Linked DNA regions of Homo sapiens. Each later gene encodes a partner of the first gene's protein in a complex. Links are inferred from orthologs where the notes say so. Each region holds a gene or a part of one and is shown in the gene's direction. Other genes may lie near its edges.

Region 1 (3,747 bases):
TTCTTTTTTTTTTTTAACTTGGAAAATCCCCCACCTCCTCCATTCCTTCACAAAACTTTCTGCCTGAATGATTTCTAGTCTGAGGGCCATACACACATTTTTTTTTCTCCCTCTGCAGGTTTTTTTTTCTCTTCAAACTTCCGCATGCTGCCTTTTTTTAAAGTGTCACACTTTGGAAAAAATTCTGACTACAAAGGATTTTGCAGTACATTGCATTCAAACCCCTTTCCCCCTATTCCAACTTGCTTTATAATGAAAGTAAGAGCCATACTCAAGAGACTTTTATTGGCAATTAAGTATCTAAGGACTTTGCAGATTTTCTTCTTTATTGTATGGCAATCTTAAATGTTTAATGAATATTTAAGTAAACAAATTTCAGCAACATGCCTTTTTTAGGAATTTGGCTTTAATTAACATCCAAACACTGTTAATTATTATGGCAAAAACATCAATACGTCAAAAAAAAGCCTTCAGGCCAGGGAATCTTTAAGAAACAATTATGTCTACTAATTTCGATTAAAGGTATCCTTTATTAAATTCTTAACAACCCGTCTCTTTCTAAACGCAGCGCCTTCACAACTCTTCTTCCCTTCCCCCTACCCCGCTTCCCTCCCTCCGCAATGGAGCGCAATCAAAGGCCGTATTATTGCCTAAGCTTGGCTCTCAGGCCAGCTAGGGATGTGTGTGTGTGTGTGTGTGTGTGTGTGTGTGTGTGTGTGGTGGGGCGGGGGTGGGGGGCGAGGGTGCAAGGGGAGAGGTTGTACGCCGCTTTTCCGAACCCAGCTCTAAATGGTTTCTCCTAAGCGAGACAAGGATTTTCCATAGCCTAAAAGAGGCCATCAAGTTTTAACATTGCGAGGCACGACTTCTAATCGCATCCTTCCCGGAAAAGTACAAACAGTTCCTCAGACGAGGTCCCCCACCTCCCACGCGCTCCCCAGCCCTCCCTCCCTGCGGAGAGCCCCGCGACAGCCTCCCCAACACCTGTGAATCATCCGGGAGGCTGCCACCGCCGAGCGATCCGCGCACCACCCCCTTCCCGGGCCCGGGCACGGCCAGGGAGGACAGTTAGGGTTGTTGCTTTATAATTATCACTTTTAATCTCTAATACGACCAGCACAAGTAGCCTTTGTCTCCCCGCCCTGATTTGAGCATCCGAGGGCCCCCCGAGGCAGCCTGCACGGGTACCCCGGGGTTTGCGCACTGAGTGAACCCCCAGATTCGGCCGTGTCCCAGCCGTCCTTGCTCTGAATCCCCCACCTCCTCCCGGCCGTTTGGACGGTTCCCTCGGGGCGTCTGTGCCTCCGTGGGGTACCCCTAAGACACCCAGCATGAAACCCCAGCACCGACTGCAAATTCCACCGAAAGCAGAGTCATCCGTTTTTGCCCTCGGCAAACAACTCAACTTCAAGCCTCGAGTCCTTGCAAACCCACGCTGGCTGGGCTAACTCCGCTTCCCTTCTCCTTCCCCCGACTCCTGCAACAGCTCAGAGAGCCTGGCTCTGACGTAGTTCAAAATAACGTGCGCCAGCCTCGCTGCCCGGCTGACCACAGCAACGAGAGCCACAAGCCCTCGACGCTGCTTCGATAACATGAAGCAATCACTCATAAAAATAGCAACCCACGTAGCCTGGCCATATATGGAGCTGGCGAGGGTGGACGGGGATGCCCCTACGGACCCTCTTCGGAGAAAACAAATCGCCGCTGAAATTTCCCCCACCCCTCCCATCACTACCTTTTACCCCTCCTCTGCCTTCCCCTCTCCTTAGATGACTCAACCACAGATTCCACTGAAAGGGGGTGGGGGTGGGGGTGGGGGGGAATATATACACATACACACAAATTATACATATATTATACATGTATTATAAAATATACACACACATACATATATACATACACACACATATACACATATGTACACACACACGCACACACACCAAAGAACATCAGGAATGCAGTTGCGGGATGAACGCGTTTGCCCAAGACCGAGTGTTAAAATGGAGTCATAAGAGTCGCCCCGTGCGGGTGTTTATAGAAGGTGAAAACACGCAGGTTTGCAGGCCAGCGCACTGGGAACCGAGTCAAGCGCGCCGCAGCCCGGGCCCCGCCCCCGCCCCCGCCGTGCCCCGCCCCCACTTCCTCCCGCCCCTCGCTGGGCGGCTATTAAAAGCTGCTGACGTCAAAACGGACGGCCATCTTTGATGAGGGCAGAGCTCACGTTGCATTGAAGACGAAACCTCGGGGAGGTCAGGCGCTGTCTTTCCTTCCCTCCCTGCTCGGCGGCTCCACCACAGTTGCAACCTGCAGAGGCCCGGAGAACACAACCCTCCCGAGAAGCCCAGGTAAGAACCCCCCTCCCCAGGTCGTGGCTCTGGCTCGGGATGGCTGCATACCCAGAAGGGACAGCAGCTGGGCAGTCCGAGTGGGCTTGGGTAAATACAAGTATTGGTGCACTTAGGGTGCGGTATTCCGTGTGTGCACGTCTGGTGGGGGCTTTATAAAGTGTTTTCGAGGTGAGCTGCTGGGGAAAAGGGAAACGGGAGCCCTGCAAATGGAGCGACGGGGAGGAAGAGCGAGGGTACGTACCGAATAATAACTTACTCTTTTGAAACAGTAGTGGGACCCCCTCTTTCTTCCATTTTGCGATGCAGTTTTCAGAGATATTTAGGCTGTTGAGTTTTCCTCCCCTGTCGTTCTAACCCTATTATTATGACTGTTGTCGTTAGGGTGCTATTATCCAGGGAAGAATTAAGGGGGAGACAGGGTGTGGGTGCTGGGGAGGCGAAAGGAGAAAGGGGGAGTTCCCGCCCCGGGCAAGCTGAGCTGCTGCAGCGACAGCAGCCTCCATGCCCCGCGGACTTGATTTATGCCGCCTGCTCCACGTCAACTGCAGGCTGGCGGGAGGCGGGCGGGTCGTGCCGGGTGGGAGGGCTCTGCGGAGGGCTGGCGCGGGTGGGCTGGCTTCGGGGACTGCGGCGGCCCGCGCTCAGCACCCTGGATAGCAACACCGAGGGCTCGCGCGGGCGCCCTCGACCTTTCAGCACCGGGGACAGCGGTCCGGCCGCAGCGCCTCATCTGCCTGCGGCAGAAATGCCTGGCCGGGGCTGGATGTGCCAGGGCTGGAGACCAAATTGTCTCCCTGAGACCCCGGTCTTACGGAGACCCTTAATAGAGGAGTCATAGTAGCTTAAAAGAAAACAAGAAAGAAATAAATCTTCCTCACAGAGACTCCTTTGCAGACAATTTCCTGTTCCCCTCCTCACCTCCTGCATAGCTTCAACAAAATAGTCTACTTGTGGAAATCTTCTGTGTTGCCCTCTGACCCTTATTTTACGTAGAAAATAAATACATTTTTTAAAAAATATGGATTTATCCTCCAGCAGGGTATCAAGGTTTTTGTTTGGTTTTGTTTTTTAACACAGAGTAGATCTGTCTACAGATCTTGGGTGAGCATAAGTACTGTATATATGAAGAAGCCAATGCTATCTGTTTATAGGGATGATACATCTCTCTCTATGTTTCCATTTGATAAAAATGTGAGATTAGCTGAACTAAGCAGAATCAACTTTAAGAATGAATCACTCTTCCTTTTCCTTCTTCCCCCATCCTTGCAATCAGGCATGAATACAAGCATTCATCCACAAAAACACATATCTGAGAAATTTTACTGGTCCTGTACTGAATAGATTTAACCTCTTTGGCCACGGTTTCAGAGTTACTGGAAGTATTTGCTATCAGCACTGG
Region 2 (3,747 bases), on another chromosome or scaffold:
AACATATGTAATAATGTCAAGGATTTCCTTCTGATCCAGATGTAATGTTTTGACATTGAATGTTACATTGTTTCAGCTAGGTCCATGAAAGAAAAAATGTCTTCCAGCCACCATTCAGAGAGCTTTTCCCCTATCTTTCCAGGCACCTCTCAACATGTCAATCATTTGTGTAAGGCAGTGCAATTATTTGAAAGATAAAGACATTAATTTAATTCACCTTTTCAGTTACAATCCTCTAAAGTCTTCTAAAAGGCATTTTCCAGCAGATTACGAACGTCGTCCTTTCTGAGTATTGTGTCATCGCCGCTCCCTTCCCGTTCACTGCAGAGCCTCTCCTTATCTCCCTAGTGCTCCCTCTTCCATCTAATCCATCTGGCCACTACTGCCAGAGAAATTTTGCATCATGGATCTCCCACGTCCGTAAGTCAATGGTTTCCAGGGCCCACTACAATTAAATGACATTTTTCTTGTTTGTTTATCCTCTTTATTCAGTCTTCTTTTCACTTGTACCCAACCTGCACCCTCTAGGTGGTCTGTGCACACTGCGTCCATTTTCACTGCTGTCTTTGTTCATGGTGTTTGCCCAACCCTTACTTGGAAAGTTCTTTTCCACTAGTACCCAGCTCAAATCCCACCGCCTTTGTGACACTCGTTTATTCGATATATACTAACGTTTCCCTTTTCAAAGTATTCTATTTAGAGTTGGAAAAAACAGCATAGTATTTAAGTACTGTATTTTTCACTTCTCATCTAAGAGACCCACCAATGACCTATTAGTGTTTTATTTTTTGGTGTAGGTAACTATGTTGGTAGGAATATTTCAGTAACAAATATATACAAGGTAACTCACTGCGTTCAGATTTGTGCTTCCCTCCCTTCGACCAAAACCTGAGGACCTATTCTGTGCTAGGGCCTGAAAATACAGAAATAAAGGAACTACAGCCTTGATGCCAAGGCTCTCGTAAGCAGATTATAATATGATCTGCAGTGACAAATATTTGTGTCACCGATGAAAACATGAGCGGGAACCTCACCCAACACCATGTGACAAATACCCGAAATGGACTTCCTATTTCAACTACTTTAGAGAAACATGGTGCCCTCAGGATCACTAGGTTACTCTGGAACACTCAGCAGAAGCCAGTCATCTGTCTCTAATACTGTTAGAAATGGTCCCGAGCCCAGAATAACATGAATTGCCCCCACCCTCACTTATCCACGCAGTCCCTCGCCAGTGGCTAATGCACCACGTTTACAGACCACGTCCCCAAGCGCCAGCGCGGACGGCGGTGCGGACAGGGAGCTGTATTGACCTGCGTTCTGCGTTTCAGAGCCCGGACCGCCCTGGGACCCCTGTGGCCCTCAAGTTCCCAAGTGACCTCGTCCGGGGAGGGGACGTCTCGCTCTGACCCCGCCCTGGACGCACCCACCCACGACGCCCCCGCCCACTTCCGGCGCGCCCCCTCTTCGCCCCGCCCACTCCCCCGGCTCCGCCTAGTGACGTCTTTGCCCCGCGCCGCGCCGTCCCACCCATCTCCCTGGCCTCCGGTCCCAACTTCGCTTCTCTGCTGACCCTCTCTCGTCGCCGCTGCCGCCGCCGCAGCTGCCAAAATGTGAGTGACGCTACGCGACGCGGGCGGCTTCGGGCCCCGCAGGCGGCAGCTCGCGCTGGGACCGCCATACTGCCCAGTTGCCGCCGGCCGCCACTCGGACGCAGGCCGGGGCTGCGCGGGGATCCCGAGGCCTGGGGGTGGGCGGTGGCCCTTGGGTCGCGGGCTGCAGACGGGCCGGGCGGGTCCCGCGGCCATCGGGCGGACGCGGAAGGGGCAAGGGCGGGGCGGCGAGACGCTTCCCGGAGGAAGTGAGCTGCCCGCCCGCAGCCCGCTCCTCGCCCCTTCCCTTTCTAGTCCCCGACGTCCCTGAGAGGAATGGGGACGACAGCCCTGGTTCGGGAGCGCCCGCTCTCGGCCCGGTGCTGCGCTGGGCCCCAGAAGTTGCGAAAGAAAGGACCTCGGCCCTGTCCTGAGCCCCTGTGGGCCGAAGAGCTCCTTGCCTAGCTAGGGGCATCTGCACTGGAAAGATCACTTAACCGTGGGCCTTCGCTCTCTTAAGCGAAAGCACGTTGCAAACCCCTGCTTCCAGTGGTAAGACTCAGAGAATGCTAATGGTTAAGAATCACAAGGACTCCCTCTTCCACCTCCATTCTGCTCATTGCTCACCGTCGGAGGAAGCCCCGGGTTTCTTCCAGGAGCTGGGGACCCCCCTCGAATGTTCCTGCTGAGGCTGCTGTGCCAATAGATCACAGTGGTTAAGATCTAGAGCCAAGGTACACAGGACCTGATCTAAAAACAAGCTGTCCTGCAGCCAGCTGTGTTGACTCTCTAAACCTCACTTTACTCATTTGTAAAATAGGAGTAATATTCCCCTCAGAGAGTTATGAGGGTTAAAGGAGGAAAAGCATGGAAAGAGTCTAGCGCCACGGCATGGTCCTTACTTATCTACCAGATACTAAACTCCGTGAGGACGGTGATGAGATCTGTTGTAGCCCTGGTCATTGACACATGACAGATGTAAAGTGACTGTTCAAACAGCCCATCAGACTGTTGTATACCAAGGCACATGCTAGGTGCTATCTAGGATACAGAGAAGAGAGTAAGAAGACCCAGGAACCTGTGATCTATTCGAGGAGGCGGGACTTTATACCTGAAAAACCAAAGTGATACTTTCCAAGTAATGGAGCCAATAATGACTTCAGAGTCAGAGTGGTTAAGAAAGATCTGCATGGGGAGAAATAAAGCCTTTGATGAAGATTTTAAAAGATGAGTACCTTCCTGGGCCGGGCGCGGTGGCTCATGCCTGTAATCCCAGCACTTTGGGAGGCCGAGGTGGACGGATCACTTGAGGTCAGGAGTTCGAGACCAGCTTGACCAACATGGTGAAACCCCGTCTCTACTAAAAAATACAAAATTAGCCGGGCGTGGTGGCACATGCCTGTAATCCCAGCTGCTTGGGAGACTGAGGCAAGAGAATTGCTTGGACCCAGGAAGCGGAGGTTACAGTGAGCCGAGATCGCGCCATTGCACTCCAGCCCGGGCAACAGGAGCGAAACTCCGTCTCTCAAAAGAGGGGGAAAAAGAAAGAGTACCTTCCTAAAAGAGGAGGCATTTCTTCAACACACCTTTCCACTCACACCACCCACTCCCTGCATCCCAGTGTTCCTGACTCTGTTTCTGTAAATTAATCTATTTTTCCATATTGGAAAAAGGGCATTCTGTAACTGTTTGTAACTATGAAAACAGTTCCTTCCACAATGAAAAGATCAGGAAAGTACTGAGTACATTCAAGCAGATGTGTGCCTTAGAACAAGTTTCAAAAAAGGACAGTAGAGCTTACCTATCGTGGGATCAGATACTTCAGGGATACAAAGTAGGTCCTATTAAAGCTTAACATTTGTCCCTTTAGTAGGTGGGACAGTCTTGGAAATTATAGAGAAATTAGAAGAAATGCAATTAAAACTTTCGTTCATTGCTTCAGGAAGAATTTCTTTTTCTGTTTTAGTTCTAATGTAAGAGATTGTTAACAGTGAGAGTCCCGGAGTAACATCTTTATACTTAAGAAAATGTATTTGGAATCGTAATGTACTCATGCTCATGCCTTTACATGTTCCAGGTCTACAGGTCCAACTGCTGCCACTGGCAGTAATCGAAGACTTCAGCAGACACAAAATCAAGTAGATGAGGTATTGCT
Region 3 (3,747 bases), on another chromosome or scaffold:
CCTCCCGAGTAGCTGGGATTACAGGTGCACACCACCATGCCCAGCTATTTTTTTGTATTTTTAGTAGAGATGGGGTTTCACCATGTTGGCCAGGCTGATCTCGAACTCCTGACCTTAGGTAATCCACCTGCCTCGGCCTCCCAAAGTGCTGGGATTACAGGCATGAGCCACCGCGCCTGGCAGAGACACTGTCTTTAAAAAATTGTTTTTTAAATGAGCTCTAAATGTTCTCATTTTAACTCCTGGGTCTCATGGGGAGAAGTAAGTGACAAATGTAGTAGTTAACCCTGGGCCATCTGGATGGGAAGCTTTAGATATGAGTCTCCAATAGAGAGAGTTCTCCTTCACTTTGCAGAGAAGTTCTAAGCAGATCTTGGTCTGTTTGAGATTTCCTGGCCTTTTTCCAATTTGAGCCCTTTCCCAAAGTTAGGAGGAATAGGACTCTTGAGATATGGAGCACTGGGAGCCATGGGAATCCATTCATCTTTATATATTTCCCCTTTTGATACTTTTATTTCATTGTCCATATAGTGAATTCACTTCAGAAAGCCAGTCTGGATCTTTCGGGGAAGGCTCTTTGGCCAAGGCTCAATGGTCTGATTTAGACCTAAAATTTCCCTTCATTCTACTCAAACCACCTGCTGAAGGGTGAGGTTGGCACATGCCATCCTAGCTGGGCTGTCAATTCCTTTATCACTCTGTCCAAACATTTGTGTTTTAGGACAGGTTATGGACCATGAAATCATGGCAGTTCACAGCTTGGGTATTCTTATTGTTGCATTTTAACCTCTTGCTTCCTATCTTTAGGAAAAATAAGGTCATTATGTTATCATTTTCACAGATGGGACTTGGAAACATTAAATGACTTTTCCAGAGTTGTAAGGGGGCTGGATCTGACTTCCAGAAAACCATCAAGTGCTTATTCAACTAAGCCACCCTGCCCCTTAGAAATTTCCATTTCTTAAGCCTCAGCTTTTCTGCTCTGAATTCTGAGAAACTCCAGGTACAGGTCAAAAATCTGCAGCAATGGGGGTGAGGACAGGTCATCTGGGCGAAACTTTGAGGGGCAAAACCACTTAGGGAGCCCCCCACACCGGTGCCAAGCTCTTGTCTGAGCAGAGAGGAGCAATGCAGGACTGGGGGCGTGTGGGAGACAGGGGCTGTGAAGTTATAGTTCCTTTGCTCTGAGAGTGAGCGACAGTATTAGAAAAAGTGTGTGGTAGGTAAGCTGTCACTGACTAGACTGTGTGATGTCGAGAAGTCCCGTCCCCCACCCCTCCGGACTCCCCCCTTCTCTGCTTTAACCATCCAATTACTTAACTTCTCTGCCTAGGGGTTCGCTTCCCACCCATCCCCTCCTCCAAGGCATCTTAGCGCTGTCCGTGGTGCTGACCGCCAATCCCCTGGTTGCCGTTTCGACCAGCTGGGATCTCTGGTGCGCCCAACCTCCCCTCCCGGCCTCCCACCTTTCTTTCTCCAGGCACCGCACACATAAATCACGGGTGGGAGGCAGGCTTGGTTCCCGCTTGGTTCCCCCTGCACTGGGAAGCTGCCGCCCCGCTTCCCTTGCTCACACAGGGCTTTGCAGTAGTGGTGGCAGCCGCGGCAGAAACTGGCTCTGGGGAAGCAATTGATTCGTCTACTGCCAGCAGCCCGGAGTTGCCTACGCGGACTGGAAAGGAAGGGAGAAGGGAGAGAGAGAGAGAGAGAGAGAGAGAGAGAGAGAGAGACTCACAGAGCTAAAACCTTCATCCATGTGGAGGACAGTCTGAGGGAGCCACTGTCCCTTGTCCACTGACTCACTGGCTGGTCCGAGTTTTCTCCGCTTCTGGCAGTGGTATTTCTTTTTGTCTTGGTCCTGCATGATTTAGGGGTAGTTGATGTGTCTGTGTGTCTACGTGTGTGCACTGGTGCTTTGATTTTATTTTGGGAAGAGTAGGAGAGTCAAATGAACAATTTTCTTTCAGGCACCTCCGCTGAGCTTTTAAACCAAGTCATTGGGACTTAGCGTCTTTCTACCCGGCAGGGAAGGGAGGAGTTGGCAAGAATTTGGCTCACCCATTCCCCCTGCAAGCCTCCAGCGTCGCGGTAAGTGATATTCTCCCGGGTTGTGCAGATGGGCTAGGGGTGTTGGAATCCCAATTGTGATGTGTGTTCATGAGCTGGTGGGGTAAAGGGTAGTTGGGAGGAGAAGGGTATCGAGGAACGACTATGCTTATTTGCCTACATCCTGCAGTGTTTTATCACCTAAGCGGCATCCCAAAGCCAAATGAGATTTTGGCTTAGTGCCCAGGGAGGGGGTAAAATGTGCTCATGTTGTAGGCAATGCGATCAAGATTGTGGCTTCTGCCCAATTTGCCCTCTCCTTTGCAGCAGAAGCTGGTGAAAGTAGCCGGCAGTTCTCTGAGAGAGTTAACCCTTCGTGGGGCTGGCTAGTCTAGCATGGAGGGACTCTGGGTACTCTGACTTAGCAAGTGAGTGCTTATCCCTGGAGGGGAGGGGGTCACCTGAGACTGGAAGGGTAACTTTTGCCTGGGCACACTGGGTAAGATTTGCACAGGACAGAGCTTAGATTGTACCCTCTTCTAGGAACAGCTGAGTAATTTAATTGTGGTGATTTTTGCGAGGTTGGCTGTTCACGCTTTCCTGAGATGGAAGACCTGGGAGCCAGGAAAGGGCCACACTATGCCTGGGATGAGTGGTCAGGCTGGCCAGAAGGGAGCAGCCACTGCCTGCAGAGGAGATGATGTTTTATTTTCACAGGTGGCGTAACCTGTAAGTGATTGTATGGGGGAGCGTCCTGGCACTAGCTTGGGAGATTCTATCCTTGAGTTCATCTCAGAAGGAAGGAGGGGAACAAAGCTTGTTCAAATTCTGGGGAAAGATTCCAGGCTTCAGCTTCAGTTTTGTTCCAGGGTAGACCGTCCCCCTGCACTAGTTTCTTTTTCCAAGATCCTGATGGGGAAAGGCTGCACCAACCTGTTAGTGAGTGGGAAGTGGAAGTACCTTGAAATTGAATCCAAAAGCTCACATTTAATTTTGAAATGCTTTTGATGCTAATCTGCTACCCATCAAAAGGGGATTTCACTTTGCTTTCTGCTTTGATTACATCTACTTTTCTGGAAATGAATGCCCTTGTTTTTAGCATTTTTGCTATTATCTCAGGGGCCACCTCAGTGTTCTGCACCCCCAAGGATTTCCTTTTTAGATTCTTGCTCTTGGAGGTGGGAGGAATAAAACAACAGTCAGAGATTGGCAAGCCTGAAATATAAGCAGGGTTCACTCATTCTTTTTTTCTCTAGCCCCATAGCTAAGAAGAGATGCTGAAATCCCACAGCATGTGCCTGCTCAGGCAGGACATATGAGGCAGAAGAGGAGGGTTGTCTGGTGGTTAGTGTCAAAGATTTGGTTCTCAAAATCCCTAACTTCTCTTCCTAGCTTCTCTTGCTGGGTGACCTTGAGGAGGAAGTTGCCTTAGATTCCTCACTGGGAAGACTTGAGTGTGAATAATGAATGTGTGGAAATTTTGTTCAAAAAAAGAACCACATATCTGGCTATGGGTGATATTTAAAGTATTGAAATTTGGTACTAATCGATCAGAATGGCTAGGGTCCTGGAATAGGGCATCTTAGGGGGCCCCTGCTGTACTGAGTGTTAATCTTTTAATTGCTGGATTATGGAGAGGTTTGGGGGGATCTTAGGGGGCTATCAAGAGAGCCACGAGGCCTCAGGGCAGCATCCCCATTT

Evidence for each region.
Region 2: the proteins of SNAP25 (region 1) and VAMP3 are in contact, whole or in part, in a crystal structure (PDB 5KJ8), measured with the Rattus norvegicus proteins. The link is inferred for Homo sapiens from one-to-one orthologs. Residues at the interface, in NP_112253.1 of Rattus norvegicus: Asp147, Leu150, Glu151, Val153, Ser154, Ile157, Leu160, Arg161, Ala164, Leu165, Met167, Gly168, Ile171, Asp172, Gln174, Asn175, Ile178, Asp179, Ile181, Met182, Ala185, Asp186, Asn188, Lys189, Ile192, Ala195, Asn196, Ala199, Thr200, Met202; in NP_476438.1 of Rattus norvegicus: Ser15, Arg18, Leu19, Gln21, Thr22, Gln25, Val26, Glu28, Val29, Ile32, Met33, Asn36, Lys39, Val40, Glu42, Arg43, Lys46, Leu47, Glu49, Leu50, Arg53, Ala56, Leu57, Gly60, Ala61, Gln63, Phe64, Ser67, Leu71, Lys74.
Region 3: the proteins of SNAP25 (region 1) and RPH3A are in contact, whole or in part, in a crystal structure (PDB 5LOW), measured with the Rattus norvegicus proteins. The link is inferred for Homo sapiens from one-to-one orthologs. Residues at the interface, in NP_112253.1 of Rattus norvegicus: Glu38, Asp41, Ile44, Arg45, Leu47, Val48, Met49, Asp51, Glu52, Glu55; in NP_598202.2 of Rattus norvegicus: His617, Ser618, Ala621, Ile648, Ser649, Ala650, Lys651, Gly652, Leu655, Tyr659, Leu662, Lys663, Lys665.

What each region holds. Positions count from the first base shown.
Region 1 is NC_000020.11:10,216,633-10,220,379, forward strand, and holds the start of SNAP25 (synaptosomal-associated protein 25), read left to right. Parts: upstream 1-2,197; 5' UTR 2,198-2,345; exon of another isoform or gene 2,346-2,581; intron 2,582-2,604; exon of another isoform or gene 2,605-2,874; intron 2,875-3,747.
Region 2 is NC_000001.11:7,769,773-7,773,519, forward strand, and holds the start of VAMP3 (vesicle-associated membrane protein 3), read left to right. Parts: upstream 1-1,523; 5' UTR 1,524-1,611; coding exon 1,612-1,613; intron 1,614-3,669; coding exon 3,670-3,739; intron 3,740-3,747. UniProt on the Homo sapiens protein: SNARE involved in vesicular transport from the late endosomes to the trans-Golgi network.
Region 3 is NC_000012.12:112,790,176-112,793,922, forward strand, and holds the start of RPH3A (rabphilin-3A), read left to right. Parts: upstream 1-1,572; 5' UTR 1,573-1,837; intron 1,838-1,967; 5' UTR 1,968-2,088; intron 2,089-3,747. UniProt on the Homo sapiens protein: Plays an essential role in docking and fusion steps of regulated exocytosis.